Linked DNA regions of Homo sapiens: region 2 is linked to region 1. A link means that fine-mapping ties the variant in region 1 to the expression of a gene that starts in the linked region. Tissue or cell type: putamen. Region 1 holds a variant in brackets; the other region holds the start of a gene. All regions are shown on one strand. Distances are between the middles of the regions.

Region 1 (15,370 bases):
CCATGGGATGGCTCCACTGGGGGGTGGGGGTTTCTTGTGTGACTTGGTTTCCCATGTCCTCCCCATTTTGGTTGCCCATGTGCTCCAAGCTCTCCCCATCTTCCAGGTTATACTCGAACTCTGCAGATGGGGGCTGAGAACTCCTCAGCAGAGCAGGTCCCCAAAAGGATCCCAGATGTCACATCTCAGAACAAAAGCACTAGCCAGACCCCAAGAGATCGTGGGGTACAGAAAGAGGAAATGGAGTCAGCACGCCAAAGGCCACCCACACAGGGCAGAACCAGGAACAAGATCCAGGTCTCCAGCCTCCCAGTCCAAAAGAGTACGCTAAAACACAGAACAGAGTCCTGTCTTCCTGTACCTGGATACAGTACCAAACATTTTTGTTCCTTATCTGTGTTGCTCTAAGTAATAGTGGAAACTCGTTTGTGGAGGGACAAATTCCAAAGATGGTTAGGAAAGAAAGGCCTTATAATTGTGAGCTCAAGGGTCATTGGCCTTATCTAGGCTCTCCTGGACTCACACCTTTGAAAGGTGAACTGTGTTTCTCCAGAGAGTGCTTTAGGCTGGGAATGATGGCAGACCTTAGGTCTTTTCTGCTAGAAAGGCCGGCAGAGCATCAGCAGCCCCCACGATGTGAGGGGAAACCTGGAGCACATTCACTCCACCCACATTTTCCAAGTCCCCAGCTGGAGATAGCCCCTGTGCTGGGCTCTGTGGATGGAGGTATTCCCATGGGGTCTCTCCCCTTGGGAATGGGTAGAAAAATAGGGAAATCCCTACTGGAGCAACGCTTGATCACAAACGTGGTGGCGTGTTAGAGGTAGCAGGAGCAAGGAAAAGACCAGGAGGTTAGAGCAATGGGCTCCAAACTTTGTTTTTTTTTTTTTTTTTTTTTTTGAGACAGAGTCTGGCTCTGCTGGAGACCCAGGCTGGAGTGCAGTGGCACAATCTTGGCTCACCACAACCTCTGTGTCCCAGATTCAAGCGATTCTCCTGCTTCAGTCTCCAGAGAAACTGGGATTACAGGCATGTGCCACCACACCCGGCAAATTTTTTTGTATTTTTAATAGTGATGGGGTTTCACCATGTTGGCCTGGCTGGTCTCGAACTCCTGACCTCAGGTGATCTCCAAACTTTTTTGATCATTCACTCCTTCCACAAGAAAAAAAAAAAACAAACTGTGCTCACACCCCATTATCTTATATTATATACAAGTAATCATCATCAACCTCGCAAGACAAAACGTATACACAGAGTGAGATTCATCACTAACCAGAGTGACTGTAAATATCTATTTCAAAGTGTCCCCTAACATAAACAAACAAACAAACTTGAGCTGACAAACTTGTCAGACTTATTAGCTTGTCACTGTTTTTGTCCTGGGTCTTGTAGCTGATGAAGTGACTGCAATAGAAACCCCAGTGTTAATTCTCTCACTTTTTTTCTTTTTTAAATTTATTTTTATTAAAAACATTTTTTTAGAGACAGAGTCTCGCTCTGTCGCCTAGGCTGGAGTGCAGTGGTGCCATCATAGCTCATTGTAGCCTCCAACTCCTGGACTCAAGCAATCCTCCTGCCTCAGCCTCCTGAGTAGCTGGGACCACAGGCATGAGCCACCATGCCCGGCTAATTATTAAACTTTTCCTTGAGGCGGGGATTTGCTATGTTGCCCAGGCTTGTATCAAACTCCTAGCCTCAAGTGATCCTCTCGCCTTGGCCTCCCAAAGTACTGGGATTACAGGCCAGCACTCAACCTCTTCCATTCCCTTGTCTTCATGTACTAGCATTATTAGCATAGTAAGTAAGCACTGCTAACAAGTCACAATTTTTCAGTACGAATCTTTAAAAACCACGTGTCCATTCTGTAAGCGCTAGTTAGCTTAGAGTGGTGAATATAATTTGTAAATCCAATCTGGATTAATTAGTCTGGATTAACCTGGATTAATAAACCAGGTTAATTAATTGGGATAACTTGCCAAAAACAGACTAAAGAGTAAGGGAGTCCTCATTACCCTTTCTCAGAGTGTTTCCCCTTCTCTCTGGAGACTCCTGGACCACATGAGACAGGAGACTCCTGGACCACATGAGGCTGCCTGACACCCCAGCTGGCGAGTGTGTCTCCACCTGGCAAATGTGACTAAAGCTGAATTCTTTGTTCTATTTGTTTAGATATTTTTTCCTGCACCCCAATGTGCATCTTGCATAGATCACTTTGGAGGCAATTGGGATAGAAGATGAAGAGAGTCGGAGATAATTTTTAAGCTCAAAGGATGGCAGAAATGATCTAGTCTACCCTTCACTTTGCAGGTGAGGAAACAAGAACCTGAGAAGGGATGTGACTTGTCCAGGGTCACCTGGCTGGTCAGTGGCAGATCCTGGAGAGAATGCAAATCTCTAGGCCTTGATGCTACAAATGGCTGCTAAAAGTGGTCACAGTCTAGCTCTTTACCGGTCCTTTTACTTTACTGGTCCTTTTACTTTACTGTGCCTCTTGGTTGGGTTCACTCTGAAGCCTCAGTTTCCTCATCTGTAAAATGGAACGAATCAAACCAGCTCTTGGGCTGCTGTTTGAGTGCCGGTAAAGTCTCGCTGACATCTGCGGACTGGGAAGAAACCCTTCCCTAGGCTCTGGAAGGTCCTACTTGAGTGTCTGAGATCTGGGACCGCTAGAGCATGAGGATTCTGCCTCTGCCTACCAGCCACAGCAGTGACCCTGCAGGACGCGGAGACCCTGCTGCCCAGCATTGTGCTGGCCTGGGCCTGGCGTGTTGGTGGGCAGCTGTGGACATGGGTCCTGGGTCTCATGAAGCAATGACCTGCAATCCTGCTCCTATCTCTCATCCTCCCCATCTTCCAGGTCCTTCCTGCCTCCTCCAGGCTGTCCTCATCTCAGATCCCACCTCTCTAAAGCTGAGACCCCACTTGGGCTACTGGTAGATGGCAGCATCCTCTATTCCAAAACCTTCAATAGCTTCTCAGCTGGGGATTCAAAGCCAAGGTGTGGCCCAGGAGTATATCAAGAAGGGATGTGAGGCAAGCAGGGAAGGGGAAGTGGCAGGGATGAGGGCAGGAGGGAGGTGAGCAGTCGGCCGGGCGCAGACACTCAGGAAGTGCATTTTCAACAGAGAAATTAAAAATAGGCCAGGCGCGGTGGCTCTTGCCTGTAATCCCAGCACTTTGGGAGGTCGAGGCAGGTAGATCACAAGGTCAGGAGTTTGAGACCAGCCTGATCAACATGGTGAAACCCCGTCTCTACTAAAAATACAAAAATTAGCCAGGTGCGGTGGCAGGTGCCTGTAATCCCAGCTACTCAAGAGGCTGAGGCAGGAGAATTTCTTGAACCTGGGAGGCGGAGGTTGCAGTGAGCCGAGATCACGCCACTGCACTCCAGCCTGGATGACAGAGTGAGACTCCATCTCAAACAAAACAAAACAAAACAAAACAGCAAGCAAAAAAAACTGCCTCAAAGTCTGACATTTTACGATCATAATGTGCCTGCAATTCTAAACAACGTCAGTGCGTCAGTGCTAAAACGCTCCTCCCTGACAGGGCAGGCTGCACCTACCTCCCTGCCCTTGGCGTCTGGCAAATACCTTATACTCTGCCTCTTATACTGAGCCAAACCAGACCCTACGTTCATCGCATCCCATATAGGCCTAGTAAGTTTTCTCCTCTCCAGTCCTTGGGTTACATCATTTCCTTTGCCAGTAATGCCCTATCCACCACTCTGTATGACCGGCTGCTACAAGGCTCAGCTTAGAGAAGTGCTCCCTCTTCCAGGAAGTCTTCCTGCAAGCATTCCCATCCATCCCCTCGCAGGCCATGGCTCCCCTCACATCACGTTTTCATCTCCAAAGGAAAACTCAAGAAAGGAACCCGCAACACAGAAAACCATACAAGGAGAGTCACTTCTGAGCTACGTGACCTCAGACAAGTCCCATGGCCTCTCTGAGCCTCAGTTTCATCTCCTTAAAAGAACCATCTCATCTCCAAATACCCTCCTTTCCTTGACCTGCACCATCCCTTCTTTTGACTGCACAGTGAACTCTGTCATTAGGTGAAAATGCTCCACCTGCTTCCAAAGTCACTAATTCAAGCACCCCTCCTGACCGCACCCTCCCCACCTCCAGCCTCCTGTCACCTGCCACATGTGACCAGCCCTTTGCCAGTGTCCCCAATGATGGATCAGTAAAAACAGGTTCAGGCTCGAGTAGAGGGCCCTGGAAGCCACAACCAGAGACCCCTCTCCAGGATGACACAATGCATCAAGCAATGCCCCAACTCCACCACCATGCTCAGCAACACCTTTGCTGAAAGACCAGCTCCAGGGATGGTGTGGGGGCCATGTGATTTCCATGGGCATGTTGTGGAAGGCCATTTCTTGTCCCCAGTAACCTGGGACATCAGCTCACTCTTATCAACACCCTAAAATCCCTCACGCCACTGACTTTTTTTTCACATCATCTGGCAAACCCCAGCACTGGGTGAACCTGGATATCTAAGCTCAGTTGGGAGGAAAATGGTGGACAATAACCAGCCCTGGGAAGGAGGCCCCAGTGGGGTGAAGGCTGCTCCCATGTTGCTTGTGTCCCCCAGCGCGACTCCCTCTGCAAGTCAGGCCATGAGAAGGGCACTGCCGGAAAAGCCAGAACCCACGGGCACCCACGTGGCCTCCTTCTTCTTGTACCCAATGCCAATCCATCACTAATCCCAGCCTCCTGTCCCACCTTCAAATCATCTCTCTCTCTTGCTTTTTTTTTTTTTTTTTTTTTTTAAGAGATGAGGTCTCACTATGTTGTCCAGGCTGGTCTGGAACTCCTGGCTTCAAGCAATCCTCATGTCTCAGTCTCCCAAAGTGCTAGGATTATAGGCGTGAGCCTCGGTGCCTGGCTCCAAACATCTGTTAAACTTGGTCATTTAGTCTCAGCCACCAACCATCTTGCCCTTGATCTTTCCGAAATATGTAAACGTGAGCAGACCCCTCGGCGGCCATTGTTCTACTTCCCCAGCCTCACCTTGCCCAGGGATCTGAGCTGCACACATCACGGTGCTTTCAGTTCTTCAAAGTCCTGTTTCCTCCAGCCGGAGGGCTTTGGCAAGGCTGTTTCTCCTATGCAGCGTGCCTCCCTCCCCACCCTTGCCTGCTCAGTCCCTACTCATCTTTCAGATCTCAGCTCAAAGTCCTTTCCTTAGAACATCCCATCCATCCCCTCGCAGGCCATGGCTCCCCTCACATCATGTTTTCATCTCCAAAGGAAAACTCAAGAAAGGAACCCGCAACAAAGAAAACCATACAAGGAGAGTCACTTCCAAGCTGTGTGACCTCAGACAAGTCCTATGGCCTCTCTGAGACTCAGTTTCACCTCCTTAAAAGAGCCATCTCATCTCCAAATACCTTCCTTTCCTTGACCGGCACCATCTGTGCCCTGGACTGCAGCCTTTTGCAGTGACCCCGGACTCAGCACATTCTCTACTCTGCACGCCCTTCACTCCTCTCTCCTCCTCCAGATTCTGTGGGACTCTACGATTACTGTCCATCTCTCGTTTGGTCTGTGAGCCCTCAAAGGCGGGCCTGTGTCTGTTTTGCTGTGCTTGGTATCTCTAATGCTTTACATACAGAAAGTAATCAATCGTGAACAAAGGTCCTAGTCAAAAAATTACATTGAAAGATAACTTTTTAGGGAGCGAATGAATGGGTCAGTCTGGGTGAGGCTCCAGGATTATCTGTGTGGGGCAGATATCTCTACAGTCTTTCTCCAGGGCAGGCCACACAGGCCGAGCCACTCCTGCAATGGTTTCAACAAGGATGAGGCTAGTGACCCTGCCAGCAAGCTCTCAAAGCTCCTTCCTGTTCATTATCTCCCCAGCCCTCCTCCACACTCCCCACCCCCATTACTCAGAGTACCAGGCTTTTAATGACCAGGCCACTGGAGCATTTCTGAGCTGGCATTGTGGAGATTCTGTTCTTCCCAAGGGCCAGGACTCAGGAGCCTTTTCTTTGTGGGGTTGGATGAGGAAAAAGAAGTGGAATCTAATTAGACCAGGTTCAAAGCCCAGCTTTGCCTCTTGCTGGCTGCGTGACCTTGCAAATTTACTCAACCTCTCTGGGCTCCTGCCTCCTTATCTGTAAAAAGAGGACAAGACTATCTAGCTACAATGCGATGGTGAAGATTCCATGAGTGAATGCACACTAAGAGTCTAATTGGGGACCCGCCACATGTCAAATGATTCCAAGACAGCTTTTTACATTTTAACATCTCTGAAACTGGGATGCAACTTACAGTTTCTGTTGCTTTTTCTTTCTTAATGGATTCTAAAATAAGGGTACATCTCACAACAGATAAGCCCTGCCTTGAATGAAATACCGCAGTAGCTTAGATTCTTTACTTCCCTTGCAAAGAGGCTGAAACGCCTGTGAGATGGGATCAAAGACCAAGAACACAAATCGTTAAGGGACAAGGGTCTATTGAGGCCTAGCATTCACCCTGGATCTCCAGAGCTTCACGGAATTTGAAGGCTCAGGCCCTTCCCCGGCCTGGCGCCCCTCTGGATCTGTCTCAGCTGTCCTAGTCTTGCTCAGAAAGCGGCCCAAACTTCAGCAGGACCCTCACCTCTGCCTCCAACCCTCTGTTGCTACTGATGTGGTAGGTTCCACAGTTGGACAGTTTGGTCACAATGCTACTGTGCTTGCAGCCACCCAAAACCCCAAGTCTTTGTCCCAAGAAAAGAGTCCTAGTTCCCACCTTCAGAAACCCCCACAGACATCTCCTCCAGTGTGACTCCATCAAGCCATCCTTGGACTCTGCTCCCAACTGTTCCGAAGGCCAGCACTGGGGATGTCATCCAGGCCTTACCAAAGTCCTTATGCTGTGAGTGCTGACTTCATCCCTGCAGCCTGCTGATGTCAGACCGGCCTGAGTATTTTATTATCTAAATATCATTATAACTTGTATTGCATACATAGTTGGCCCTCTGTATCTGTGGGTCCTGCATCTGTAGATTCAACCAACCTCAGATGGAAAATATTCGAAAAAATTAAGGAAAAATAACAATACAACAATTAAAAAATACAAATTTAAAAATACAGTACAATGGGCCAGGCATGGTGGCTTGCACCTGTAATCCCAGTATTTTGGGAGGCTGAGGCGGGCAGATTACTTGAGATCAAGAGTTCGAGACCAGCCTGGCCAACATAGCGAAACCCCATCTCTACTAAAAATGTAAAAAATTAGCTGGGTGTGGTAGTGCATGCCTGTGATCCCAGCTACTTGGGAGGCTGAGGCACAAGAATCACTTGAACCCGGGAGGCGGAGTTTGCAGTGAGCTGAGATTGTGCCACTACACTCCAGCCTGGGTGACACAGCAAGACTCTGTCTTAAAAATATGTATATACAGTATAATAACTAGTTACATAGCATTTACATTGTGTTAGGCATTGTAAGTGATCTATAGATGACTTAAAGTATACAGGAGGGTGTGTGTAGGTTACATGTAAACACTATACTATTTTATATCAGGGATTTGAATATCCACAGATTTTGATATCCTTGGGTGTCCTGGAAGCTGAATATTTAGGAATGACTGCACACATATCACCAAAATCTTTACAGAAATAAATTATCTATCAAGTATAAAATTATTTTATTTTATTTTTTTTTTTAATAGAGGCAATGTCTTACTTTGTTGCCCAGGCTGGTCTCAAACTCCTGGCTTCCCAAAGTGCTGGGATTACCAGGAGGAGCCACCATGCCCAGCCAAAACATTTTAAATGTAGAAAAGACCAAAGAAAACAAAATTCTACCACCTAGTGATAATTAGCTTGATGTCTGTCTGAATATTTTGCTATGTCTGCATGCTAGGGAAAGATTCTTTTCTCATATCCAAACCCAAACAGTCTCATTCCACACATACTACTCTTTCTCTTACCGTGACATGGTGGCCCTCTCTCTAAACAGACTGGTTTCTTCATGGCGGCCCCACAGTGCTCCCGTCCTCTATCCCTATCCCTGGCAGGTCCCAGGCCTCTACAGGGACGTAGTGCTTTGGGTCTGACGTTGTTCCTCCTCATCCTCAGAGTGGGGCTGTGATCTGTGATGGGGCCATGGCTGCCTTCGGGGACCCCACCAAACAAAGCCACACCCAGGCACAGAAATACTCCAGAGCACTTAAATCAAGGGGTGTGTGGTTAATGGCGGCTGTCTGTCTCTGTCCGATTTGATTGTAGCCCTTTCAAAACCAACTGAAAGTTCTCCCAGCCCCAGATGCTGGCCTGATATTTCCCTAACCCCTAGGGGCTCCAGAAATCACAATGAATAATGAATAGGTAGGTGCCTGGCATTTTGTAGTTCATAAAGCGCCTCCTTACTTTTATCCAATTTAGAGCCTTACAACAAGCTTATACATTAGGCAGAACAGGTATTTATTATCCTCATTTTATAAATGAAGAAACTGACGCTTAGAGAAGTGGAGTGACTGACCCAATATCTTCCCTTATTTTTCTACCCTTCATAGTCTGGCCGTCTCCAAATCACACTAACAACCCAGCTCAGGCATCAGCTCCTCTAGGGAGCCTTCCATGACCCCCCACTTCCACCCCAGGCTGGGTTAGGTGCCCTCCTGGAGGCCCCACAGCTCCTGGGCTTCCCTATGATAACTGTAGTGCCCCTGCCAGGCCATGGGCCCTCACGGCTGTGATGGGTCTAGCTTGTCTGCATTCACACTCCCCAAGCATTAGAAAAACATCAATAGGTGGTTGCTGGGGTGAAGATCATTACAATGACTAAGGCAGGAATTATTCTTCCCCTTTTACAGATGAGGACACTGAGTCATAAAGAAGGGTCAAGACTTGCCTAAGGAGCATATCAGCAGCGGGGTCAGCTCTCCTTCTTCAGAGGCCTGGGTTCTTTTGCTCCACTGCATCCCTTGTTGTCCGCAATCTTAGACTCCAAACCATTGCTGGAGGCTCGTATCTGATTTCTCAGGCAGGTCTACCTGGTCAGCCAGGTGTGAAAGGGAGGTTGGCAGGAGGGGGCTCTGTCTGCAGTGGGCTCAATTCCCCAGCCTGGGCCAACACCGTGGTGCAGCCTTAGGAACAGCCACAGGAGTTGCCCAGTTATTGAGCACGCCATAGACCACGCCCTGTGCAAGAACTTCCCTTGCACTTCTTACTTCATCCTGTGGCTGGGGCCGTTATGATGCCATTTTGCAGGTGGGCCAGGAGAGACCCTGGCCCAAGGCCACTCAGTGTCTGAGATGGGGCTAGAAGCCAGGGCTGCATCCCTGGCAGCAGGCAGCCCCAGGAGTTTGCTGGCACCAGAGCCAGAAATAAATGCACAGTCAGAGTACAGGAGACAACTCTCAGGGGACCTGCAGTGTGGGCAAAGCCCCAAACTCACCTCCCACCCAGGGCTGGCTAGAGGGACAAGACTCTTGGGCCCAGGGAACACACGCCTGCCCCTGCACTGCCTGTGGGCAGGGTCATGCCATTTGCCAGGGCCCCTACAAACTCCAGGCTCAAGGCCAGGCTAGAAGCAGCTGTCATATCAACCCTGCACAAATGCTCAGCTCCCGATTTCTTATTTGAATGAGACTTCACCTATCTGCTCCTGACTGGCTGACAGATGCTGAGCAAGGCCCCATCTCTTATTGGGCCTTACTTTACCTATCTGTGAAATGATGCCAGGAGAGGGGTGGCTGGCGGGGGGAGGGGCTAGGTTTGGGGGATGGTATCTTAATGGAACCCACCAACTCTGACATTCCAGGGATGGACTACAGGCAGCAGGGGAAGGTGATTAAGCCCTGGACACTGGTGGCAGATGACATAGATTGAATGTATGATCCTGGGCTAGCTACCCAACTTCCCTGGGGCTCAGTGTTGTCATCTATAAAATGGGAATGATAGTACAAAAAAGACTGAAAGTAAATGTTCATATTGATTATGTGGGATGAGAAGAGGAGAAGATATGGGTAATTTATTTTGTCTGTTTTCCTGCCTTTTTCTGAAATTCTCCATTATCAAGTGTTTATAATTTTAAAAATGTATTTTCTTTGTAAATTAACTTCATGAGATATCATTTACATATAATATATCCATTTTAAAACGGGAGAAATAATAACAAACAGTATGTACCCTATAGGTTGTTATGGGGATTGGGTTAACGTATATAAAATATTAGATGGTGGTAAGAAGTGCTAATAAGTGTTTGTTAAATATATAAGCCCAGGGTCAGCCTGGCTTCCTCCTCATCCTCCTCCTGCTCACCTGGCCTGGACCCCAACCTCTCCCCTAGCACTGAGCTCACTGCCCAGGTCCCACAGCAGCACTCCAGGCCTGGACTATTTCTACAGCCATCTCTCTGCACCTGTCTTCGTCCGTTGCTGCAGCTACAACAAAATATCATAAATTGGGTGCTTTGGCCAGGCGCGGTGGCTCACGCCTGTAATCCCAGCACTTTGGGAGGCTGAGGGGGGCAGATCATGAGGTCAGGAGATTGAGGCCATCCTGGCTAACACTGTGAAACCCCGTCTCTACTGAAAACACAAAAACAAAATTAGCCGGGCGTGGTGGTGGGCGCCTGTAGTCCCAGCTACTGGGGAGGCTGAGGCAGGGGAATAGCATGAACCCGGGAGGTGGAGCTTGCAGTGAGCCGAGATCGTGCTGCTGCACTCCACCCTGGGCGACAGAGCAAGACTCCATCTCAAAAAAAAAAAAAAAAAAAAAAAAAAATTAGCCAGGCATGATGGCGGATACCTATAATCCCAGCTACTCAGGAGGCTGAGATGGGAGAATCACTTGAACCCGGGAGACGGTGGCTGCAGTGAGCCAAGATCACACCACTGCACTCCAGCCTAGGCGGCTGGGCGAAACTCCATCTCAAAAAAAAAAAAAAAAAATGTAGGTGCTTTATCAACAATAGAAATGTATTTCTCACAGTTCAGGAGGATGGAAGTCCAAGACTAAGACAGCAGATTTGGAGTCTGGTGAGGGCCCACTTCCTGGGTCATAGAATGGCGCCTTCTTACTGTGTCCTCATGTGGTGGAGGAGGTGAGGGTCTCTCTGGGGCCTCTTTTATAAGAACACTAATCCCATTATGAGGGCTCTGCCTTCCTGACCTAATTCCCTCTCAAAAGCCCCACCTCTTAATACCATCACCTTATGGGGTAAGATTTCAACATATGAGCTTTGGAGGAACATAAATATTCAGACCATAGCAATCTCGCAGGAATCACACCAATATTCAAATCTGGCCATGTTCCTACCCAATTCAAAAGCCTTCCATGGCTCCCCGCTGACCCTGGCTGAAAGTCCTAGATTCTCCATGAGACACAGTTTCAATAAGCCATGTAACTTTTCTGTATTTTTGTTTTCTTAATTGGAAAAGCGGGATAAAAAGAGTAGCTCCGTCATACACTCGCAGGATTCCATTATGAGCATGGTGGGGTACACAGTCTAGCCCAGGGCCTGCCTGCTCCTCTCTTCCTCTTCTCCCGCCATCACTCTGTCCCAGCTCGTGCTTCTCTGAACATGCCAGGCATGGTCCTGCCTCAGGGCTTTTGCCCCAGCTGTTCCCTCCACCTGAATGGCTGTTTCCCCAGAAATGAGCCTGACTCACCCCTCTCCTTCAAGCCTTTGCCTAAAAATCACCTTCTCAATGAGGCCCCCAGCCCACCCTAGTTAAAACTGCCCCCTCACACACCCTAACCCCTCCTATGTTCTATTTGCTCCACCTCATTTATCACTGATTTTATTTATCACCTATTCATCTATTTTATTTATTGTTTTTCATCTGTCTTCCCCCCATCTGATTGTAAGCTCTTTGGGGGAAGATCTTTCTGGTCTATTTTGTTTAATATCAGCGCCTTCCCCCTTTCCCCAGCACTTAGAAAATACCTAGTACAGGTCAGGTGTG[T/G]TGGCTCACATCTGTAATCCCAGCACTTTGGGAGGCCGAGACAAGCGGATCATTTGAGGTCAGGAGTTCGAGTCCAGCCTGGCCAACATGGCGAAACACCGTCTCTACTGAAAATACAAAAACTAGCTGGTGTGGTGGCACGCACCTGTAATCCCAGCTACTCAGGAGGCTGAGGCATGAGAATCACTTGAACCCAGGAGGCAGAGGCGGAGGTTGCCGTGAGCCGGGATCATGCCACTGCACTTCAGCCTGGGAGACAGAGCGAGACTCTGTCTCAGAAAACAACAACAACAACAAAAAACAACAACAAAAACAAAACAAAAGAAACAAACAAAAAAACTAGTACAATGTAGGTGCTTAATAAATACTGGCTGAATGACTAATGGAATGAATGAACATAAAGCACTTAGGACAGAATTAGGCAGGCGGTAAACCCTCAATGAATGTTAGCTATTATTATTACTGTTAGTGATTCTTCAAAGTGAGGCTCCCATGTCCCTCCTCCTTGACTTCTGCAAGCTCATAATCACACCTTCCTTGTCCCCACCACACCCTGCCAATCTCTCAATTATAGTAAGGAGCACACCGCTCTTTAAATACCTGTATATCTTTTTCCATTTAGGCTGAACCAAATGAAATTGCCATTTCTTGTAAGTCAAAAAAAGTCACATACTGGCCGTTTCATGTGGTTTAACCTAGTAAGTTTCCCATAGCAGCCTGCAGACCCCCAGGAGGCACAGTTTGACCACAGAAGCAAAGTCACCTACTCCTGGCCCTTTAGACCAGGTGTGATTGCAAAGCACGTCCAATCTGTTCTGAAGGAGGCAAGGCATGGATTATAGACTTAAAACACAAGAAGATTCTGCTGAATTATTTTCTGGACCTCCTGAGATTTGGCAGAGAAGATAAAAACACACCAACTTCTAAAACGATCCAGCTTCTGGCCATTTTGAAATAGCAAAGGTTTAAGGCTGAAACCCCTCGGTGGGGAGCTAGCTACCTGCCTCTAAGGGGATTCATTTAATGAATCTCCTTCCAATCTCGGCTTTGCTACTGAGATTTGTTCACTCTAAGAGGTTGGCTGTCAGAGCTCAAACAAATTCAGCAACTGCTGAGTCTACCCCCATTTCACAGATGGAGAAAGTGAGGTCCAGAGAGGGGAACGGATCGGCCCAAGGTCACACAGTAGGGAAGAGGAAGACTTCAATCTGGAATCTATGTCTGCTGACTTTAGTCTCATGGTCTTTCTTCTGGATTAAACTGTTTCTATGCTGGCCAGACTCCGGTAATGTAAGCTTCAGTGCCACTATTTTTTAAGCTGTATTTGTCAAATGAAATGTTTATTAAGCCTCAGATAAAACTGAACACTTCTTCACTAGACGGCAACTCCTTTATTTTTTTTTTTTTTTGAGATGGAGTCTCGCTCTGTCGCCCAGGCTGGAGTGCAGTGGCACAATCTCGGCTCACTGCCACCTCTGCCTCCCGGGTTCAAGTGATTCTCCTGCCTCAGCCTCCCGAGTAGCTGGGATTACAGGCATGTGCCACCACACCCAGCTAATTTTTATATTTTTAGTACAGACAGGATTTCATCATGTTGCCCAGGCTGGTCTCAAACTCTAGACCTCAGGTGATCCGCCCACCTTGGCCTCCTAAAGTGCTAGGATTACAGGCATGAGCCACTGTGCCTGGCCAGAAGACAACTTCTTACAAATAACAGCACTACATATGTCTCTCTCCCTAGTTACTTCCTTAGGATAAAGTCCCCAAAGTAGCCGGCTAAGGGCAAAGGGCAAATATGATCATTTTCATGATAACAGGCTGCCAGGTTGCTCTGCAAAATTAAATGCCACAGGCGAATCCCTATAGCCTTGCCAGCACAGAGTTTCATCTTTTTATTTTTATTTTTGCTAATTTTACAGGAATAAATACAGACTGCTTTCATTTATTATATGTTATGTGTTTTTTTGGAGAAAAAAAGGCACTCCAATCTTGGAATCAGGATCCCTGGGCTCGGTTGCTGGTTTGCTGTGTGACCTTTGCCCAGTCACATCCCCTCTGGCGACAGGGGATGCCTATCTGTAAAATGAGGGGGTTGAATGAGACGACGTCTGAAGGCTCCTTTCAGCTCAGACATTCCATGATTCCATGGTGCATTTAAAAAGTATTAGCAATTAAAGTCATAGCATGACTTTTTAATAACCAGAATCTGCCATGCTCCTAAATCAGGCCAAAAAGGCTTGAATTAGGCAAGCAGGAAAACAGGGCCCAGATTATACATGTGTCGAGATGACAGGAGACCCAGGTAGCACTTAAGCCTGTGCGTCGGAGCTGGGCTCATGGGCCAGCACATATACTTTGCCTGCTTTTACGAGGGGATAATAACACTCATTTGTGGTCCAGCTCCCAGTCCTGTGCAGCTCCACCATGGCCGCAGGGCAAGGTCATAGGCACTACTTCAGCCCTAGAATTCCATAGACTTTCAGTCCAAGGTAGCTCACCCCCAGGTTCTGCTTGAATACCTGTGATGACAAAGAGCTCACTACCTGTCCAGGGGCCTCCTGCCCTCTTTTGGCTGTTAAGAAAATCCCTGGGTGCAGGGCAGGTCATGAAGGGGACAAGAAAGACCAGGAGGCTGAGAAGTGATTCCTAGAAACTGCTCCCTCAAACAGGGCAGGCATCAGGGAGGTGGAGAAGAGGCCCCATGGGGCAGGAAAGGCCTGCAGAGGGGCTCCGGCTCTCCTCACTCCGGACCTCTCAGACGGTCCCCAGGAGGGGCAGGAAGCTGGGGAGACACATTCCAGTCCTGATGCACAGGTGGGTTCTGAACAAGCCCCAGGAAAGCGGAGGCCCCACAGCCTGCTCCAGGGCAGACACCTCGGCTCCCTCTTCTTGCCTTGGCTCCCTGGGATCTGATGGGAGAAACTGCTGGGCCTGGGGCTGCTGGGTCTGGAGATGAGCATATTTAAGGGACCTGACCACTGCCCCAGGGTGAGGGAGGAAGGGTCAGAGGTTGTTTGTGTGTCCAGAGCAGGACCAGCAGGAGAGGCAGTGACTGGGTAGCAGATTCCAGCTTGGTTTACAACTAGTGAGATTCCTATCACAAGGAGTGTGCAAGGGGGCAGCAAGACCTTCCAGAGGGGATCTTACAGAGGGGCTGGGCCAGATGCCATAGGTCTTCTTTACCTAGGGAGCCTGGGACCACAGTCCCTCAGACCTGTGCTCTGCCCCATCCCTTAATGCCACGCGGACACAGCACCTTGGCACTGTCACCCCTCTGAGGTCCAGGCGTGGCCGCCAGTCACCCCTTGTCACACCAGCTAGTGTGTGTCACACCTTATCACACACTAGCTCTGGGACACAGAGCTAGGCACCAGCACCTGGCCCGGGTGGGGAAGGGGAAGGAGCTATCCTATACCACTCTCTAAATCGAGGTGCCTACGTGGGGCTGGTCCAGGCA
Region 2 (15,786 bases), 71 kb after region 1:
TGCAGTGAGCCGAGATCACACCACTGCATTCCAGCAGCCTGTGTGACAGGGCGAGACTCCGTCTCAAAAAAAAAAAACAAAAACAAACACAAACAAACAAAAAAAAAAACAAGAAGGATACTCTCTACCTTGTCTCCTTCAGAGTTAATGTATACAAAAATGTTTAAAAAGCCGTAAAGCTGGGCTGGGCACGATGGCTCACGCCTGTAATCCCAGCACTTTGGGAGGCGGAGGTGGGTGGAGCACGAGGTCAGGAGATTGAGACCATCCCAGGTAACACAGTGAAACTCCGTCTCTAATAAAAATACAAAAAAATTAGCCAGGCGTGGTGGCACGCACCTATAGTCCCAGCTACTTGGGAGGCTGAGGCAGGAGAATCATTTGAACCCAGGAGACGGAGGTTGCAGTGAGCCAAGATCGCGCCACTGTACTCCAGCCTGGGTGACAGAGCGAGACTCCGTCTCAAAAAAAAAAAAAAAAAAAAAAGCCATAAAGCCCCATATTGTGGACTCACATCTTTCAAAGTAACCTTTAAGCCAGACTCTGAACTGATTCGAAAAAAATAAAATTTTTTTATTTATCAATATTTTAACCATCTTATTCTCCTTCATTCAAAGCAAACCAAAAAAACTTAACAGTTTCTCTAAGATTTTGATATCTTAGCAGTACTTCCCTAACTGCTAATATCTGTTTTCTTGTAAGTGCCACCTGTGGGCCTAGATCAACTCTGAGACTACACAGAGCCAAGTCCTGGGGGTTGTCATCACTGGTAGGTTTTACCAATGAGGAAATAGCCACTCAGAGAGGTTGAGTTTTGTGGCCAAAGTCAAAGCTAGCAGGTGACACCGTTATAGACTCAAACACGTCCCTACTTTTGCTTTTCCCATTAAACAATGTGGCTTATCAGAGCAGCCTTTCTAACAAGCAGATCATCTAAGACAGGAGGGGCTGCCCATGAAGGCACAAGCTCCCAATGCAAAGGAGTGTGCAAGGCACGGGCGGCACAGGATGGCGATGCCCCAACAGAGACCAGCACTTCCCACAGGAGGCAGAATCAATGACCTGAGGCTGCAGTCTGGGGCACCCTGGAGAAATGCCCTCCATGAGTGACCACACAGAGGATTTTCAGCAGCATTTATTTGTAATTCTCCTTTTACGTGAGCTCTGAGGGTTGCCCCACCACCAGTGGGAAGAAGGCGCTGCCTAGACAAAAAAAGGGCCTGACCCAGGAGGTCACTGCCTCCCTAGAGGGCCCTGGACGAGTGCCTGGCTGCCCCTTAGCTTTGGGAGGGCAGGTTATGAGTCTGCAGCCTAGGGTTTGAATTTCAGCACTGATGTTTTCTTACTACATGACCTAGGACAGGTCTCTTGACCTCTTTGAGCCTTAGTTTCCTGGTCTATAAAATGGAAATAGCACTAACTACTCTATAAAATTATTGTGAGGATTAAATAAGATGACGCATGTAAAGTGTTGGGGCAGCAGGCATATTTCATGACAGTACACATTTATACAGGTCCTTTGTAAACTGTAGCTTACTGTGGCAACTTGCTATTCTTATTATTATAAGTCTCGTGGGTTCCCTTTGATCTTTCTTGGCTCTGCGGAGACCGTTGTTTAGGTAAAGCATAAAATAAAGTTGTAAATCCTTAAAAGCAGGAGAGAACATGCCTTGCAGATTGCTCAAGAGCAGTGACGAGACACTTTTTACCAGAAGTCTCTGACTCAAAGTCAGACATGGGTCAGGAGGTTTTCAACGACATGGGAGCGGGCCGCTGCTTCCTCAGGAAGGGTGGAGGCGGGCGAGGTGGGGCAGCCTGCTCCACGTGGCTAATCCAGGCCTTGCTGACTTGCCCAAGACACCAGAAACATCTTTCTAGGTGGGCTGGGAAGGTTTTGCCAGGCCCTGGGTCTGGGAGGAGAGTGCAGGCTTGCTGCAAGGCGAGGAAAGGTTTCAAGAGGAGAAGCTCACGTCCCTGCTTCCTGAGTCTCAGGCAGCATCCTCCTCAGGAGACTAGAACCCAGGTCATCACAGCAACTCCACCCCTTTCTCCAATGCCCACAGCAGGGGCTGGCCTGGAAGAGGCCCGCCGTGTGTGCTGAAGCAAAGCCGCACAATTAAAGAACCTGCAACAGGTTCCCCACAGCAGAAGAGGTCTGAGGATCCCAGAGCCGTTCTTCCACAATCTGCTTCTTCAAATTTCAGTTAAGACACAGGAATTCTATTATTGCAGAGGTTTCTGCTGGCCTCTAGTCTGATGCTGATCTTTGCAGCAGCATCAACCCAGGCTGCAGTTTTCTGCAAAACCAGGGTTGTCTGGCTCCCTGGCAGATGGGGAGTGGGGGCTGGAGCAGAAGCAAAGAAACCCTTCAAAAGAAACTCCAAAGAAATTACTAATGATTATTAAGAATAAAAGGAACAGTTATTATACTAGTAACAGCACCTATATATGTTTGTGTATATACTATTATGATAGTAATAGCATGGGTGTGTTCTATGCACAGACATATAGACATAGAATAACAATATTATTAGGACAACTCCCATGTATTGAGCACTTACTATGTGCCTGAGGTTATGCTAAGGGGTTTACATTCCTTTCCTCATTTAATTATAAAGTTTAGTGTATTGACTTACACATTCATTCCACAAATATCCAATGTGCCAGGCAGGACACCAGGGAGGTGACACAGGCAACCAAAAAAAAGTCCCCACCCTTAAGGGCTAGCGGGTGGAGATGGACAAGGACGGGGGTAATTATTAATAGAACACAATGGAACAGGTCTCCCTTGAAGTGTTTGAAAAAAGTGTTGAGGGCCCAGAGAGAATCCAGCTGACAAAGTCTGAGAAGGCTTCCAGGAGGAGGCTGGCAAGAAGAGAAGGCAATGCTGGAGCTTGGCCATAGAGAATAAGCAAGAATTTGCCAGGCAAAGGAGAGAGAGCAGAGACTCTGCCGAAGCATCAAGCCCAAGGTGGGGACTGGGGGAGCAGGCAGAGGTGAGATCAGGAGGGATGAGCCCTGAGTGCAGGAGTGAGGTGGTGGGTGGCATTGGATGGCAGTGACCGGGTTCAGGGTCAGGTTTAAGAAAGCTCACTCAGGCTGCAGAGAAGGGGATGGGTTCTGGCATGGCCTCCACATGGGGATACTGGAGAGGAGGCCACTGTGACTTTGAGAGATGAGGTGTGACCTGGGCAGTGGCAGCGAGAAAGGCCTGGGTCTGATGTATGGGTCAGAGGGCAAAAATGGCCAGCACAGTGATTGACTGGACTCACTGGCTGGAATTGAGGAAGGGTGGAGGGCAACTACTAGTGGGTACAAGAGGGGAAATCTACTGAGAGGAGGGAAGGGAAATGGGGAGAAGGGTTGGGGCAGATGTACTCAGCTTTGGACATGCAAAGCACCCAGGTACAGAGGTCCAGGGGGTACTTGGTAACAAGTCCTGCCCTTGCCTATTTGGCCTCCCTGTCAACTGAACATGAAGCACTTTAGACACAGTGTGGCTTTGTACTGGGACCTGATTTTCCACATTCTTGCAGGGGCAGCTGTGAGGTGGTCCATACCGATCCTAAAACCTGCCAATCATGTTCCTGGCTGCAGCATGGGGGTGGGAGGGTGTGGTCTCCTGGACTCTTCCACGTTGGGATGATCCAGGATTTGGGATCAAGAAACTTCATTTGTGAGTCATCTGGGGGAAAAGGATCCTATCTTATGGGAACACCAGCGATAAAAATAATTGATCTGGCCAGGCATGGTGGCTCATGCCTGTAATCCCAGCACTTTGGGAGGCTGAGGCGGGTAGATCACGAGGTCAGGAGTTCAAGATCAGCCTGGCCAAGATGGTGAAACCCCATCTCTACTAAAAATACAAAAATTAGCCGGGCGTGGTGGCACGTGCCTGTAATCCCAGCTGAGGCTGCCTCGGGAGGCTGAGGCAGAGAATTGCTTAAACCCGGGAGGCGGAAGTTGCAGTGAGCCGAGATTGCACCATTGCACTCCAGCCTGGGCAACAGAGTGAGACTCCATCTCAAAAAAAAAAAAAGTCACTGATCTACCCAACTCACGACACAAATCTACAACACTGCATTTTCTTATTAACCCTCCTCACAGCAATTCTGTGAAAGTTTGATTTCTTGAGGCCTTCCATAATAGTCATCACAATAGTAGCTCACAAGTATTGGGTTCTGACCATGTGCAGGCATTGTTCTAACCATTTTAGGTATATGAATTCATTTAATCCTCAAAACATCCCTAAGAAGTAGGGATAATTTATAAACCTCATCTTATGGGGAAGGAAACAAGCTCAGAAAGGTTAAACAACTTGCCTAAAGTTATATAGGACTAGGATTTGAACCCAGGCAGCCTGGCCTCAGCCCAAATTCTTGCCCTAACTAATCCTGAGTCATATCCCTGGCTCTCTGCTTCCTTAGCAGAGGGCTCCTCCCGCTCATTCCCAGCAGGAGGGTAAAGGCTTAATCACCAGAGCCCTGGGTGTGCAGGCAGGAGGGTAGCCCATTGGGTACCTAGCTCGAGGTGCAGGACGGGCCCATTCCCAGCCAGGGCGGCATCAGGGGTGGCAGGAGGTGCCGGCGGGCTGTTGTGGAATTCCCAGCGCTTCATCTGCAGCTGCTGCAGCCAGTACAGCATCGCTTGCTTGGTGGCGGCCTGAGAAGCACAAGGATTAGTTGGCAAGGCCCTGTGCCTGAAGGGTGGCACTGGGTGCAGGAAGAGGGGAAGGTTGTGGGAGGCTTAGGAATGCTTTCTTTCCCAGGAAAAAAAAAAGGGGGTCACTGTAGGTATGTATGCTTCCTGGCCACAGAAGATCATCAGGCTCTGGTCTCCCACTCAGCGGTTCCTTAGCTGCTCTGGGCCTCAGTTTCCTCATCTGTACTCTGGTGACAATAAGTCTCATTGCATAGGACAATGATGAGGATGAAATGAGACAAGGGTATCACACAGTATCTGACACACAGTAGGTGCTCAAAATGTGCTCACTGGATAGAGGAATTTGGAGGCGCTGTGAGAGGGGGAGGTGCACTGAATTCTGATATGCGTGGGGTCCTGGTACCATCACTATCTCTGTGTGACATCTCCAAGTCTTTGCTGCCTTTTGTGGAATAGGAGTAATCCTTGCCTTGGGGATGCACTGGAATCATGGATATGAATGGAGACTGGAAAGCCACATGCACATGTGACAACATGGTGGCACCTTCCAGGTGCTCTGGCCCTCCAAACAAGTTCATGGTAAATGCTGGTCATTAGTCTCCCAGCACTGGCTGGCGGTTGGTCCAAACATCCACTTTCACATCCAATAACTCCTGGATTCTTCAGGAGGGAGGCAAGGCAGGAGTGAGCACCCCTTTCTACAGATGGAGAAACTAAACCTCTGAAGTTGCCCAGGCATGTGGTGGTAGAACTAGTCCCATAACCCTGGTCTAGAAGTTGGATTTTATGGCCAGGAGATTAGTGGCTTCATAAAGAAGGCCTGAGATCAGCTGAGGTGGACTGCAGAAGATGAACAGCTCACCGGGCGTGGATGGGGATTCTCAGAGAGCTGCCTGCAATCAAGGCCACATGAGAACAACAGCGGGCTACATGGCAACAGAGGCAAACTCCCTATCTCAGGGGTTCACTGGTGTGCACTATGCAGGGGGGAGTCTGTGAAAGTGACCCTCAGGCTGTCACACAGGTATCAATAAGATAAATGATGCCCACCAGTGTTCTCTTTCCATACACTCTCTCAGAGAGACTGCAGCACCTCCCAGGTCTTCCCCATGACCTTAATGCTGATGAGCTCCAGCCGAACCCAAATACCCCATTTTATTAACTCATTTGACAAGGGTATACTGAGCATTGACATATGTGTCAGAGATAGTGCTAGGCACTGAATACAGGGGTGAGCCAACACACATGGTCCCTGTCCCCTTGGAACTTGAGAGTCTCCTGCAGGGGACATGTACCTGGATGTTCCATGGGCTCCTCATCCTGAGTTCCCTCCTGTCAGTGACTGACCCAACCAGGCAGTCAGCCAGTTACTCCAGCCACTCCTGACATCTCCCTCATTCTATTTCCCTACTATCCCGAGACACCTCCATTGTCCCCTTCCCCACAGCCACAGCTCTAGTTCAGCTGTCACTCTCTTCTGATCACCTTCTGATGGGCTCCCTGAGTACCAGCCTTGCCCTTCCCCTAGTTTCTTCTCTATCCAATAGTCAGACTGAGCTTTTGCTACTTGGCCTAATTTGCCAATTCCCCACCCTCGGGCCTCTGCTCTTCAACTCCATCCTTTGGGCCCCTCTGTTTTTCTGGCTCATGTGATTTGCCTGGACACTCAGGGCTGTATCATGGTTTCCTAATTTGCTCACGGTGCTCTCTTGGCCTGGAATACCTTTCTCCCTCTTGTCTGCTTGCCACCTATTTCTTCTTTCAAGCCTTGGGTGTGTCCCTCCTCCAGATGCCTTTCTGGCTAGCCCCTTCCACTTGGTGGAACTGACTCCTCCTGTCACCACACCTTCTTGCACAGACTTATCACATGTCTCTACAGAACATTTCAGGGTGCATGCAGGTTCTCCCTCAGTCTCTCCCACCAGACTTTAAGCTGTCAGAGAACCAGGGGTGGGGGTGCATTAGCTCCACACCCCGCCAAGCGCAGAGCCAGGAACAATGGAATACTATTATAAAGACCATGTGTTGAAGACCCTGCATACAGCAGTCAACCTGTGGAAGAGACACATAGACCCGGGAACCACATGACCTCGAAAATGCCTTCCCTGGCCAGGGATTCCTGAGTTTCATTATTTTAACCAAGTCCCCCAGCCTGGTCACCCGCCAAGTCCAGTCAGTAAAGGAGAACTGAACACGTGGGCATCCACAGATACCCACTTAGCTGGAGTTGGGGTTGGAGGGGTGGACAGATGGGGATGGGGTGGGGAAGGCTATCTCCTGGCACATTCTTCTCTGATGCCCATAGAACACTTAGCCCAGATCTGTCTTTCCAATTAAGTTATGGGACACCTCCTCTTGACATTAGCACTCTGACCTTGGTTCCATCACCTTGTGTGTGCATGTGTGCTTATGCAACAAAAAATTATTAAGTACTCCACTAGGTACCAGGCTGTATTCTAGGTGATGCAATTAATTCAACAATTTGTACATGCCTGTGATGTGTCAAATGCTTACAAACCACCTAGGTTCTGAGAGGTTAAGTAACTTGTCCAGGGTCACACAGCTAGTAAGTAGCAAATGTACAATTTGAATCCAAGCCCGTCTGATTTCAAAGAATGTGGCCTTTCTACTGCTTTAGGCTTTCTCAGTTACACATGATGATAAAACCTACCCCTTGCTGCTGATAGGAAAACAGGTTTAAGCATGCCTAGATGAACAATCTAGGCTGATCAGTGAAACCTAAGTGTTTATTTTCCTAATCCCTGCCAGTCTCTTCTCAGCATTCACTGACCTTGGCCAAAATATCAAGAAACGGGAATCAGAATCCTGGCCTTGAGAGAGGATTGCAAAGACCATATTTTGACTTACTTAGGTCCCAGGTAAGAAAGTTAAGGTAACTGCACTGTCAGGCACACCCAAAAGTAAAAGTTTTGATTCAGCACTGAGAGGTAGAAAGACTATGGGATTCCAAGCTACCCTACTCTCTAGACGCATGGACCTCGAGCCAGTCCTTTCATCTCCCTCTGACTCAGTTTCTTGATCCGTAAAATGGGTCTGTCTTCCCTGCCTTGTGGGAACCCAATGAGGAAATGGGTGGGAATGCACTTTGCAAAGCACAAAGTTCTTGGAACTGTCGTCACCGACACTCCAAATTTACTGTGTCCACCTCACACTCGCGCCCAGCCTTGCCCTGCGAAAAGGGGACCTCACGCCGCTGGAAAGGAGAAAGTCGTTGCAGGAATTTACCTTCAGGGTAATAACCCGGCTGGGAGTCTTGATTTCGAAGATCCCCTCCTCAGCGTCCGCCTTACAGTCAAACACTGCACTGGAGAGGTCGATGCTGTCCAAGGGATTGGCATCCTGAGCGGTCCGCGAGTAATACAGCTGACATTTCCTTTCGTCGTAGAAGAACCAGCGGGATTTCCAGCCCCGGATGGGCCCTTTGCCGCCGAACTTACTTAAATACCCACAGAGTTTCTTGGGGACCGCCTCCAGGGACCGGGCGCAGTCCCCCGATTCTTCCTCCGGAGGCGGCACCTGTGGATCCCTGGCAGACTCTTCGGACCCAGGGGCAGAGGAGCTGGACTCCGGGGCGTTCTCCCCAGCGCCCTCCATCGCTGCCAGCCGGAGACTGCGGAGGGACGAGGGGTCCGCGGGACCACCAGGGACAAATCTCGGAGACTCGGCGGGCAGCTTCCCAAAGGGAGACACCTGGGCGGGGGCGGGGCCGACGGCGAACCCGCCCCCAGGAAGCCACAGAGTCGGGACCGGGTGCGGTGCGCGCGCCTCAAAGATCGCAAACCCAGGTTACGGCGGCTGGCCACGCCCCTCCACCGCCAGGCCACGCCCCCGCAGCGCTCAGTCGGCTCCCTGCAAAGCCCAGCTGCTTCCGGCTTTTTCTCCGCGCCAGTCAGCCATCTTTACTGAGGGCAGCCGTGCTCCCTGGCTTCAGGTTAAAGGCGTGGTGGCACTGAGTTAGGTTAACCGCGGGCAGAGAAGCCTGTCCCTAGCTACACTTCCCTGGTAGTTCGCATAGTCACCTAGAAAGATAGTGCTTTCTTGCACCCGATGGGCTGCTTGTTCCCTCCCTGTGCCGCGCGGGGCACCCTCGGACGGCGCATCTCGCGGCCATTGGCTGAAAGGAAGACCGCTGGGAGGCCCATCTTCCGGCGTCGCCCGGGCAGCGCGGCTCCGGAGCTGTCTGCCACTCTTCTCCTGGTGTTCCTTCAGCCCCGTCAGTGACGCCGCGGACGGCCTTCTTATCCCTCGCCTGACAGCAGTGGCCTCCCCAGCTCTCTGTCCTGGCTCCTATTCGCCTCCTGACAGCGCTGGTTGTGTTGCTTGGGGCGCCCAGGCGCGGCCGCTGCGCTGCGGAAACCCATGCCACTCCTGGGTCATAGTTGGGTGCAGTACATTTATTTTTATTTTGTTATTGCTATTATTATTTTTAGAGACGGTCTGGCTCTGTCACCCAGGCTGGAGTGCAGTGGCGCGATCAGAGCTCACTGCAGTCTCCGCCTCCCGGTCTCAAGCCATCCTCCCGCCTCAGTCTCCCGAGTAGCTGAGACCGCAACTGCGCACCACCACACCCGGCTAATTTTTAAATTGTTTTTTGCAGAGAGGGGGGTCTTGAACTCCTGGCCTCAAGCGATTCTCCTGCCTCGGCCTCCTAAAGTGCTGGAATTACAGGCGAGAGCCACCGCGCCAGGCTGTTTTGTAAATAAGTAAAAGAATTTAGGGTTTGACTAACTTGCTCAACTTCTGCCTCATTTTACCTGTTTCCCCTTAAACTTCTCCCCTTCCCTCCTAAGGCGCATTTCTCCATTAGGGTTGCGGAGCCCAATTGCGTCCAGCTTTCTTTAGGAGCTTCTTTCTGCCTTTCTCTTGCCCTTTGTTCAGCCTTTCCTCTTACTTCATCGTCTCCCCCTCAGCCGTCGTTAACGAGACCCTCATGCACACTCAGTGATATTGACAAGAAGCAGGGTGGGGGTAAAGGCGAGGGCTCTAGAGTCTATTTGCATAATTTTCAGATTCCCACTCTGCAATACTGAGTGATTTGCTCAACCTAAAAATGGAGATAACACTTCTTCCTACCCACCCCCGACCCGCCGCCAGACAACTTTACGGTGAAGCTAATGAAATTTATGTTCACTTGCATGGGTCGCTGGGATTTGTAGTCTAACAGGTGGGGAGTTGCAACCAGGGAGCATTTCTCCTAAATGCCAGAGAGCTCTTCATTTGTTATAATTTACAATTTATTTTCTCATTCTAAATAACCATCGTCATACCTAATTTTGTGTTCATAATTTTGTAATTTTTTAAAAATCAGAAGGCCCTTAATGCTGTTTAATTCCAGTCCCCACAAAACCTGGATCTACACCTGTCTACCCTTAGAGTTGTTTTGATAATTAAATAAAATAATATGTGTGAAGCTCTTAGTACAGAATGTGGGACAAAATATTTCTTTTCTTTTCGAGACAGAGTTTCGCTCTTGTTGCGCAGGCTGGAGTGCAATGGCGCGATCTCGGCTCACCGTGACCTCCGCCTCCCGGATTCAAGCGATTCTCCTGCCACCGCACCCAGCCAGTTTCTTTTCTTTTCTTTTTTTTTAATTTTTTTTTTTTTTTTTTTTTTTGATACAGAGTCTCGCTCTGTCGCCCAAGCTGGAGTGCAGTGGCATGCTCTCCAATTCCCATTCTCCTGCCTCAGCCTCCCGAGTAGCTGGGATTACATACACGCGTCACCATACCCAGCTAATTTTTGTATTTTTAGTTGAGACGGGGTTTCACCATGTTGGCTAGGATGGTCTGGATCTCCTGACCTTGTGATCCACCGGCCTTGGCCTCCCAAAGTGCTGGGATTACAGGCATGAGCCACAGTGCCTGGCCCCATTCCTGATTTTTAAAACCTCTTAATAAAACAAACAGCATACCTTATTTGTTCTAGGTTTTGTAGCTAGGCAATGATAAATATTTGAAAGAATAATTATAAATATATTACGTATACCAGAAAAACTCAAGTGGTGGCCTGTTTTAAAAAACTGTGCATATGTGTATAGATGTCTCCAGCAGCAAACAAATGGAAAATATAATGGACAACATCCCTTACATAAATGACTTACATAATGAATACCTTATTGCTTTATAGTAGGATATAAGACAAACCAAATATGTCCCTGAGTGGGAAGAGTTAATATTGTAAAGATGTCACATTCCTCAAATTAATCCATACAGTTAATACATTTTCAATCAAACTCTCGATAGGCTTTTTTTTTTTTTTTTTTTTTGAGACAGAGTCTTGCTCTGTCACCCAGGCTGGAGTGCACTGGAGCGGTATCGGCTCACTGCAACCTCTGCCTCCTGGGTTTAAGCTATTCTCCTGCCTCAGCCTCCCTAGTAGCTGGGACCACAGGCAGGGCACCATGCTCAGCTAATTTTTGTATTTTCAGTAGCGATGGGGTTTCACCATGTTGGCCAGGCTGGTCTTGAATTCCTGACCTCAAGTGATCCATCCACTTCAGCCTCCCAAAGTGCTAGGATCACAGGTGTGAGCCACCATGCCTGGCCTCGATAGGCTTTAAAAAAACTTTTTATTTTTGAATAGTTTTAGAAAAAGTTACAGAGACAATGGGAGAATTTCTGTAGACCCTACACCCAGTTTCCCCTAATGTTAACATTTTGCTTAATCCTGGTATGTTTGGCAAAAATAAACATCTAACATTGGTACAAAACTATTGACAAGGCCGGGTGCGGTTGCTCACGCCTGTAATCCCAGCACTTTGGGAGGCCGAGGTGGGTGGATCACGAGGTCAGGAAATCGAGACCATCCTGGCTAACATGGTGAAACCCCGTCTCTACTAAATATACAAAAAATTAGCCGGGCGTAGTGGTGGGCGCCTATATTCCCAGCTACTCGGGAGGCTGAGGCAGGAGAATGGCGTGAACCCAGGGACGGAGCTTGCAGTAAGCCAAGATCGTGCCACTGCACTCCAGCCTGGGCAACAGAGCGAGACTCCCTCTCAAAAAAAAAAAAAAAAACTATTGACAAAACTACAGTCTTTATTTGGATTTTGTCTGTTTTGTACCAATAGCCTTTTTCTATTCCAAGATCCCATTCAAGATGCCATAGTTAGTCATCATTTTCCCTTAGTCTCCTCTGCATTGTGACGTATTTCTGTTTTTCCTTGTTTTTCATGGTCCTGACAGTTTGAAGAATACTAGTCAGGTGTTTTGTAGAATACAATCACTTTGGGTTTGTCTCATGATTTCACTGAGGTTATGTTTTGGGGAAGACTACCACAGAGGTGAGGTGCCCGTCTCATCACAACATCAGAGTACATGATATCTGCATGGTTCCTATACTGTTAAGTTGTGTAGCTTAAATTTTCTCATTTTATTTTATTTATTTTTTTGAGACAGAGTCTTGCTTTCTTGCCCAGGCTGGAGTACAGTGACACAATCTCGGCTCACTGTAGCCTCCGCCTCCCGGGTTCAAGCGGTTCTCCTGCCTCAGCTTCCCAAGTAGCTGGGGTTACAGGTGCTCGCCACCACACCCGGCTAATTTTTTGTATTTTTAGTAGAGACAGCGTTTCACCATGTTGGCCAGGTTGGTCTCGAACTCCTGACCTCAGGTGATCCACCCACCTCGGCCTCCCGAAGTGTTGGGATTACAGGCATCAGCCACCATGCCCGGCCTAAATTTTCTCATTTTAAAAGGATGTTAAGGCCGGGAGTGGTGGTTTTAATAACAAGAAAAGTTAATCACTTGGATAAGGTAGGGTCTGCCAGATTTCTCTGCTATAAAGCTGCTCCTTTTCATTTCAACACACTGTTCTTTGGAATTGGGTTGCTAAATTCAGTCCCCCCTTATAAGTAGCTCCACCTCCTGGAGGGGTTGATAGGAATTTTTGCAGCCTATTAAAATGATTCTTACATACTCTTTTTTTCCTTCCTGTCTTTCCCCCTTCCCTTTCTTTTCCATTTTTTTTTTTTTTTTTTTTTGAGACAGGGTCTTGCTCTGTTGCCCAGGTAGGCTGAAGTGCAGTGGTGCAATCATCACAGCTCACTGCAACCTTGACCTTCTGAACTCAAGCAGTCCTCCTACCTCAGCCTCCCGAGTAGCCAGGACTACAGGCACATGCCACCTCATCTGGCTAATTAAAAAAAAAAATTTTTTTTTTTTTGGTAGAGATGGCAGTCTCACTATGTTGCCCGGGCTGGTCTCAAACTCCTGGGCTTACATGATCCTCCTGCTTCGACCTCCCAAAGTGTTGGGATTACAGGCCTGAGCCACTGTGCCCAGCTTTAAGTTTTACTTTTTCAGAAGTAAACAAGTGAGAGTTGCCAACATTTTGGAGAGAAAGGACAACTAGAAAGGATTTAACCTACCAGACATTTACATTTAGTAATTTGGCCAACAAGTATTGAGTAAGCACTTTCCATCAGTCACCATTTAAAATGTTAGGGATAAGTCATGAGTGGGACAAGGTCACGGCTCACATTGAGCTTTCATTTTAGTCAAAGGAGGTGGGTAATAGGCAGGTAAAGAAGTAAATGAACATAGTAACCTCCAGAGTCTCCTACGTGCTAGAAAGAAAGTGAATAGTATTACAGGAGCAACAGAATTCGGTGTTTTTGGCACATGGACAGGCACATCAATAGAGCCAAGTACAAAGTTCTGAAAAACAAAAATATACGTATTCAGTTAAGTTTATATATTAATCTTATAGCATCTGTCTTAGTCTATTCAGCCTGCTATAACAAAACACATTAGGCTGGGTATTCTGTAAGCAACAGAAACCTCTGCTCACAGTTCTGGAGGCTGGGAAGTGTAAGGTCCAGGTGCCAGCAGATTCAGTGTCTGGTGAGGACTGCTCTCTGCTTCAAAGATGGCGCCTACTTGCTGCCTCCTCACGCAGTGGAACGGGCAAACAGACTCCCTCAAGCCTCGTTTACTAAGGCACTAATCTCATTCATCAGCACTCCACTCTCAAGGCCTAATCACCTGCTACAGACTCTACCTCTTAATACTATCACATTGGGTTTTAGGTTCCAACATATGAATTTTGAGTGGGACGCCAACATTTACACCATAGCACTATTTATCAAAATAGAGTTTAGGTAAATTAGATAATTACATATATAAAGTGAAACTGTAGGATATATGCAATGGGATATTACTCAGTCTTATAAATAATGAGATTCTGACACATGCTACAACATGGATGCAGTACCTAGGAGGCAAACTCATAGAAACAGAAAGTATAATAGAGGTTACCAGAGGCTGGGGGAGGGAGGAATGGGGAATTACTGTTTAATGGGTACAAAGTTTATTTTATTTTATTTATTTAATTTTTTTGAGACAGGGTCTCACTCTGTCACCAGTCTGGAGTGCAGTGGCATGATCATGGTTCACCACAGCCTTGACCTCCCAGGCTCAGGTGATCCTCCCACTTCAGCTTCCTGAGTAGCTAGGACTACAGGCACCTGCCACCACGCCTGGCTAAATTTTGTATTTTTAGTAGAGATAGGGTTTTGCCATGTTGCCCATGCTGGTCTCGAACTCCTGGGCTCAAGTGATCCTCCGACCTCACCCTCCCAAAGTGCTGGGATTACAGATGTGAGCCACTGTGCCCAGCCAGTTTCTTTTCTTTTCTTTCTTTCTTTTTTTTTTGGATACAGAGTCTCACTCTGTCACCCAGGCTGGAGTGCAGTGGCATGATGTCGGCTCACTGCAACCTCTGCCTCCCAGGTTCAAGCAATTCTCTTGCCTCACCCTCCCAAGTAACTTGGATTACAGGCACCTGCCACCACACCTGGCTAATTGTATTTTTAGTAGAGACAGGGTTTTACTATGTTAACCAGGCTGGCCTCAAACTCCAGACCTCAAGTGATCCACATACCTTGGCCTCCCAAAGTGCTGGGATTACAGGTGTGAGCCACCATCCCTCGTCCAGAGTTTCTTTTTATTTTTTCTTTTTTTAAATTTATTGAGGTGGGATTGATATACAGAAATTTGTACATATTTAAGTATGTAATGAATTTGGAGATAAGTATATAATTGTGAAACCATCACCACAATTAATGCCATTAACATATACATCACCTCCAAAAGTTTCCTGTTACTATTAATTATTATCGCTATTTCATGATGATACTTAATATGAGATCTACTCTCAGCACATTTTTAAGTATACGCCATGGTATTGTGAACTCTAGACACCATGCTGTGCAGTGGATCTCTAGGACTTGTTCATCCCACATAACTGAAACTATATCCTTTGACCAACACCTCCCCATGTTCTCCCTCCCCGCAGCCCCCAGCAACCACCATTCTACTCTGCTCCTCTGAGTCCAACTATTTTAGATTCCTCACATAACTGGTATCACACAACATTTGCCCTTCTGTGTCTGGCTCATTTCACTTAGCATAATGTCCTCTAGGTTCATCCATGTTGTCCCAAATAGGCAGGATTTCCTTCTTTTTTAAGGAAAAAAATGTACTTATAAGTATACATCTGTTCCTGTATTTAAGTTGTTTTAAAGTTGAATATAATTCCTTACCTCAAGAATGGGGATCAGAAATCATTTCTCCCAGCTCCACTTCCATAAAATGCAAGCAAGAAGTCACACACAAATAGCAGATTAACTGGGAAGCTTTCTTAGAGAAAGAAAGACACATGTTAAACTCTCTGATGCTGTAGATATAAGGACACAGACTAGAACTCTATCATTCTCACAGGAAAAAGTTGGAAGGGATAATGCAGGCTTCTCAATGTTTCCACCCTGTTACAGGGGGAATCGTGTCCCTCTAAATTCATTTGTTAAAGCCTGAGGCCGGGCATGGTGGCTCACGCCTGTAATCCCAGTACTTTAAGAGGCGGAGGTGGGCGGATCACTTGAGTTTAGGAGTTTGAGACCAGCCTGGCCAATATGGTGAAACCGCATCTCAACTAAAAACACAAAAATTAGCTGGGTGGCACACTCCTGTAATCCCAGCTACTTGGGTGGCTGAAGCAGGAGAATTGCCTGAACCCGGGAGGCGGAGGCTACCGTGAGCCAAGATCATGCCACTGCACTCCAGCCTGGGCGACAGAGCAAGATTCTGTCCATAAATTATTTATTT

The links. PIP is the estimated chance that this variant, and not a neighbour inherited with it, causes the effect.
Region 2: it holds the start of TBC1D2, and the variant in region 1 is fine-mapped to the expression of TBC1D2 in putamen (GTEx, PIP 0.96).

The regions. Positions count from the first base shown.
Region 1 is chr9:98,176,581-98,191,950 of GRCh38, forward strand. The region is part of intron 1 of CORO2A (coronin 2A); the gene reads right to left. Among named protein-coding and RNA genes, the nearest start is that of CORO2A, 8.4 kb to the right of the region's middle. RefSeq lists an enhancer at 14,910-15,370. The variant T/G (reference allele first, on the strand shown) is at 11,914.
Region 2 is chr9:98,247,265-98,263,050 of GRCh38, forward strand. TBC1D2 (TBC1 domain family member 2) reads right to left here and starts at 8,385. Exons shown (of 13, transcript NM_001267571.2): 1 at 7,909-8,385; 2 at 4,521-4,662. The coding sequence starts at 8,277. RefSeq lists enhancers at 565-1,482, 1,483-2,399, 8,620-9,109 and a silencer at 8,400-8,449.